Linked DNA regions of Homo sapiens: region 1 is linked to region 2. The links come from fine-mapping of genetic effects on gene expression. A gene starts in region 2. The other region holds a variant in brackets. All regions are shown on one strand. Distances are from middle to middle. Region 1 overlaps LOC105374921 (a long non-coding RNA gene). Region 2 holds the start of TFAP2A (transcription factor AP-2 alpha).

What was found. PIP is the estimated chance that this variant, and not a neighbour inherited with it, causes the effect. A credible set is the group of variants that fine-mapping cannot tell apart.
Region 1: its variant is the best candidate, but not a certain one, in a credible set for the expression of TFAP2A in tibial nerve (GTEx, PIP 0.83).

Annotation. Positions count from the first base shown.
Region 1 is chr6:10,348,880-10,351,780 of GRCh38, reverse strand. It overlaps LOC105374921 (a long non-coding RNA gene), which reads left to right. Exons shown (of 3, transcript XR_926459.3): 2 at 2,246-2,359. Among named protein-coding and RNA genes, the nearest start is that of TFAP2A-AS2, 54 kb to the left of the region's middle. The variant G/A (reference allele first, on the strand shown) is at 1,277.
Region 2 is chr6:10,413,365-10,416,265 of GRCh38, reverse strand. It overlaps TFAP2A (transcription factor AP-2 alpha), which reads left to right and starts at 1,192. Exons shown (of 7, transcript NM_001372066.1): 1 at 1,192-1,325. The coding sequence starts at 1,275. It overlaps TFAP2A-AS1 (TFAP2A antisense RNA 1), which reads right to left. Exons shown (of 3, transcript NR_033910.1): 2 at 1,215-1,585; 3 at 97-979. RefSeq lists enhancers at 651-1,310, 1,311-1,968.

The DNA of each region.
Region 1 (2,901 bases), 64 kb after region 2:
TTGACAAAAGGCCGAGCTTGGAAGGGCACGGTGAGTCAATCTGCTGGCCCAGAGGAAAACCAGAGATTAGAGATCTACGCTTAATTAATAGGCGGTGAGGAAGCCATTTCCAGACTCACCCTGTACTTTCAGAAGCAAATTGTGAATTATTGCCTCGAGAGATAGGCTTTAGAGTGTAAAGTCCATTTTTGTGTCAGTTGAGGAGCCTAAACAAATGTTGAATGGCACCACTTTCTCTTTTTCTTTATTTCCTTTTTTTTTTGAGACAGGATCTCATTCTGTTGTCCAGGCTGGAGTCCAGCGATGCAATCATGGCTCAGTGCAACCTTGAACTCCCGGGCTCAAGCCATCCTCCCACCTCAGCCTCCCAAGTAGTTGGGACTATAGGCATGCACCATCACAACTGGCTAATTTTTAAATTTTTTGTAGAGAGGGGGCTCCCTATGTTGCGTAGGCTGGTCTCGAACTCCTAGCCTCAAGCAATCCTCCCGCCTCGGCCTGGGATTACAGGCGTGAGCCACTGTGCCCAGCCTAATGACACATTTTCTGATTGGACATTAGAATGCCCAAGGGTCGAGCCTAGCAGTGTGCTCCTTCTGGGTGGTTTAAGGGAGGCAGATGCTCTGTGGCTTCAGGGATGTGTAGCACACCTAAGAGCCACAGAGTCACCCTTTCCTAGTACCCTATGAGGCCACATGTAAAGTGCCTCAGTCTGGGGTCATCTTGTTTTCTCTCTTTTTTTTTTTCTTTTTAATCCCCATTTAGCTCCAAGCAAGAGAAGGAACTGGCCCTTCTTTTGCTTGTGCAAGGGTGGATAATGACTTGCATATTCCAGGAGAGTGGTGAGGCTCACCACCTTGATAGCTACATTTTGTCTGGGCTTCTCAAAGAAGGGAGGACGAGGAACAGGTTTTTGGCAGGTTTTGTTCCAGTTAGGGCTGGGCAGCAGTGAAACAGGCTGCCTGTCAAGTCCTGAGTTGTCCAAACTGCAGAAGGAATTCTGCTTGATATAGGAGGCTGGAATAGATTATGTCTAAAGTCTTTTCTAAAAGCACGGCTGAGGGTTTCCCCAAGTTCAGCTTTCTTATAGGAGGGCAGTATGGTGTGTTGATCAAAAGCAGTGGCTGAGGCCAATCAGTCTAGATTTCAACTCTGCTACTTATAGCCTATGCTGTGTAGCCTTAGGCGAAAGTCTGTGCCTTCGTTTTTTCATCTGTAAAATAGGCTCAATGACAGCAGAATCTATTTCATGAGAGCTATGCTGCCTCATCTCATG[G/A]AGCTGGTGTAAAAAATAAGTGGATTAGGCTAGGCACTGTGGCTCACGCCTGTAATCCCTGCACTTTGGGAGGCTGAGGTGGTTGGATGACTTGAGCTCAAGAGTTCAAGACCAGCCTGGGCAACATAGTGAAACCCCATCTCTACTAACAGTACAAAAAATTAGGCTGCTGTGGTGGCGTGCACCTATAATCCCAGCTACTCAGGAGGCTGAGGTGAGAGGATGCTTGAGTCTGGGAGGTGGAGGTTGCAGTAAACTGAGATCGTGCCACTGCATTCCAGCCTGGGTGACAGAATGAGACCTTGTCTCCAAAAAAAAAAAAAAAAAAGGAGAAAGAAGAAAAAAAGAAATAAGTGAGTTAATACACAGAGTGTGTAGAACGATACCTGGCCCAGAGTCTGAGATTGATAAAGAATCACTATTATTAACTGTTTAAAACAAACGGGAGCTGGGCACGGTGGCTCACGCCTGTAATCCCAACACTTTGGGAGGCCGAGGAGGGTGGATCACCTGAGGTCAGGAGCTTGCGACCAGCCTGGCCAGCATGGTGGCCTGTTTCTACTAAAAATACAAAAACTGGCCAGGTGTGGTGGCAGGCCCCTGTAATCCCAGCTACTTGGGAGGCTGAGACAGGAGAATCACTTGAACCCGGGAAGCAGAGGTTGCGGGGAGCCGAGATTGTGCCATTACACTCCAGCCTGGGCGACAAGAGTGAAACTCCGTCTCAACAACAACAAATGAACAAACAAAAAGGTTCTGAATTCCCATCTTCCCTGCGATAAGTGGTGGGGTGTTTTCTGTCTTTTTTCCTCGTAACACATCCCCCCAGATTCATGGGAACTGAGCAGGGCAGCTGGGCAGAGGAGGGAGAAGCAGAGACGTGATGTGACAGCAGGAAGGTGGGAAAGAATCAGCTCTATCCTCCTACACAGTGCAAGTCACAGCTGCAACCAACCTTCTTGTTTGCAGTGGCAAAGGAGGAAGAGGCAGTGAGATGGCAAATAGGCAAGGCCACCATCAGTCATTGTCGTCACTGTCACCATCGTCTTGCAGATCAGCCACAATCCTGCCTGCACAGAACAGGTACTCAAGAAATGCTGTTCTCTCCCCAGGGCTGATAACTCCCCGATCTCCACTTTTCAGTCGGCTTCTCTTTTACCTATTCCGGGGCTGCTGTTCCAAAAGCTCTCCAATACCCTCACTCCACTCTTGGCCTCACTCCTAACAGGTTATATCACCTCCCTATGTACAGAGGCCATAGAGACCACTGGGAGAACCACTCAATGTCCCTACTTTTTTTTTTTTTTTTTTTTGAGACGGAGTCTCGCTCTGTCTCCCAGGCTGGAGTGCAGTGGCGCGATCTCGGCTCACTGCAAGCTCCGCCTCCCGGGTTCACGCCATTCTCCTGCCTCAGCCTCCGGAGTAGCTGGGACTACAGGCGCCCGCCACCACGCCCGGCTAATTTTTTGTATTTTTAGTAGAGACGGGGTTTCACCGTGTTAGCCAGGATGGTCTCGATCTCCTGACCTCATGATCCGCCCGCCTCTGCCTCCCAAAGTGCTGGGATTACAGGCGTGAGCCACCGCACCCGGCCAATGTCCCTACTTTCTTTTTCTTTTTCTTTT
Region 2 (2,901 bases):
GCGTTAGTAGCATCACCAAATCATGAAGGAACTCTCCCTGCTTTAATTAAAAAGGGGAATCTTGGGAAAACTAGAGCAGATTAACACAGCTAAAAGTCGGTTCCCGGTGATTTATTTTGATGCACGCACGAGACGGTATCTAGACTTGCAGGCACACACACGTCTGTTTTTAGGCTCAACTTCAGAAGCGGGTGTGCAGTTCCATAGGAGTTCTGTATTCGTGTCCACGTTGCACCCAGGAAACCTTAGCCTGAACACCAATTTGAACTGTCAGTTGGCCCTAGCTTCACACAAACAGGAGAAAAATTGTTTAACCCCTGGAGCTGTCAAGTAACCTCTTCAGGGTACAACTTTTATTTTACACGCTGCAATTAAGGGATTGCAAACCCCAGCAGAGCCACCGGAGCCGCTTGGCAGAATCTCCAACCTGGGGGAAAGCTCAAAGCCAATAAAACTCCCAAGGCGCTGCGGCCCGAGGGGGTGGCTGCCTCGAGCGGAGGCGATCCCTTGTTGGGAAAAAATCCTGGAGTGACTTCGCCGGTCTTGGTTTGGTGGTTATGTTTAATTGCGAAAGGGATAATGATTTCTAATAAAATTGCACGGGGCCAAAAGGGCAGCTCGGATCGTGGTAGCAGGGTTAAGGGAGAAGTGCTAGAAGCTGGGCCCCAGGCGTGGCGCTTGGACCTTGAGCAGTGCCGGGCTTTGCAGAAGGCATCTCTGGAGAAAAGGAAGCGGAGAAAGAAAGGAAGGGGAATGTGGCGGAATTGGGGTAAGAGAGGGGGTGTTGGGGCAGGGCCTCGCGGCGGAGCTCGAGGAAGGTTTTATCAGTTCGCAGGCTGGAGTGCGCTCTAGAAGCAAGTTCGCGGCGTAGAGAGGCCTTTATACCTGTGTCGGAGCGGCCGGCGGCAGATTGTGGTACTGGCGAGCAATTGGACTATTGTTGATATGCTAATGAGGCGATTAGGCTGTTGGTAAAGAGCTGGAAAAGGGAAAAGTTTCTACCATTAGAGGGAGATCTCCGAGCGCACACGGGAGCTCTTTCCCTTCTCTCCTCCTCCTCGCCCTTCTCCTCGCCCTCCTCCTCCTCCTCGCCCTCCTCTTCCTCCTCCTCCTCCTTGCCCTCCTCCTCTCCCTCCTCCTTCTCCTCCTCCACCTCCTCTCCCTCCTCCTCCTCCTCCTGCGCTCACCGCCGGCAGCCAGCACTTTGCGCTCACCCAGAGAGTAGCTCCACTTGGGTGCGAGACCGAGAGGGGCATATCCGTTCACGCCGATCCATGAAAATGCTTTGGAAATTGACGGATAATATCAAGTACGAGGACTGCGAGGTAAGCGCGACGCCGGCTCGATCATCCGTGCGGTCACAGGCTCCGAGCTTGACCCTCCCTCTCCTCCTCCTCTCCTTGCAACCAGCTGCGAAACGCGGGTGGGACAAACTTTCCCCAGCGCAGCGCCCGTCCCTCGGATTCGCCCGAAGAACGCGGGGGAGAAGCTGCAGAGAGAGGACGTGGATGCTCCCTTCTTTGGTTTCCCTACTTTGAAGCTCGTGTCCCACTTTACTCCCCTTTCTGACCAATTTTGGCTGTGCCTAAGAATGGGGGAAAAGAAGAACATGGGCTTTTGAAGCAATTGCTGGCAACTGGGCACTTGCCTGTGCACTCCTCGTGTTATCTTCATCGAGATTGAGGGCCCAAGTCACCAGGAACAGAAAGGAAAGAGAAAACTCTTTTCTCTCTTGAACTTCCTCTCCGATCTTTAATATTCCTTCTTCTTTCTATTCATTCATTCATTCATTCATTCATTCTTTCTTCCCCCCACCCCCACTTCTAAAGCGGTTCCCTTCTCGGCTTTAGAGACGGCCCCCCCACACTTCGCTGTGAGCTGGGCTGCATCTTCCTGTAAGCGGGTTCAACTTAAGACCACTGATCCCAGCTGCGGGGCTCGCTCCAGATCCTCTGTGCTTCACGAAGTTCTAAGTAGCTTCTCCCTCTGAGCTACAGGATCGACGCACCCCACGGGGGTGTGTGGGGGTGGGGTGGGGAGATGTGCTGCGCCGAGCCTGCTGGCCGCTGGGTGCGGGAGCACCAGCTTCTGCACCAGCCCAGAACGACCGTGGGAATCCTTGCGCGGCTGCAGACCACCTCTGGTGCCGCAAGCCCGCTGGGCCGACAGAGCGCGCCGCTTTGGAACCCATTTTAAAACGCAGAGTCCCCTGAGCTCGCCTTCTTGAGGCAGCAAGGGAGACCCTAGCGCGACCTGTCCACCCGCAGGAGGCGCTGGGAACGGTTACAACCAACACTGTAATGAGCAATGAGTCCGAGAGAGGGGTTGGGGTGTGTAGGGCTGGAGATTACCTAAATAAATAGGTGGCAGTCCCAACTTTTGCTGTTTTTTTTTTTTTTCTTTTTTGGCATTTGCAGCTGAGAATGTTAGGCAGGAGGTGTGTGTGCAGGCGCAGGGGCGGAGATCTTGACTTCACTCGAAACCAGAAATTGGGTTTATGTGAACGATGTGTCACCCGCTCCCTCCTCCCTTTTCTTTCTGAAGATTATTTTAAATCGTTCTCCTTTCAGGCCCCCCACCCCGGTAGATGGGGACGGGGTGACATCCCACGGGTACTGGCTCTTCCCTGGGGGGGTCCTGTCGCGCTAGAGGAGGGGCGCAGGGACCCCACGTCAGACCAGTCGCTTTGTTTTCGAGGCTGGGGGCGAGCTTTGCGGGCAGGTAGGAATGAAGCCGAACCCCTCAGTCTCATAGGACAATTCATACTGTACTGGTCTGGGCTTTGGCCGGAGGCTTGGGCATTTCACTTTCGCAGAGGCCGAAACCCAGCTCCAGGTGTGGGCGCCCTCGGCGGGCGGGGTCCGAACCTCCGTGCGGCTCTAGGTGCCGACTGGATGGGGT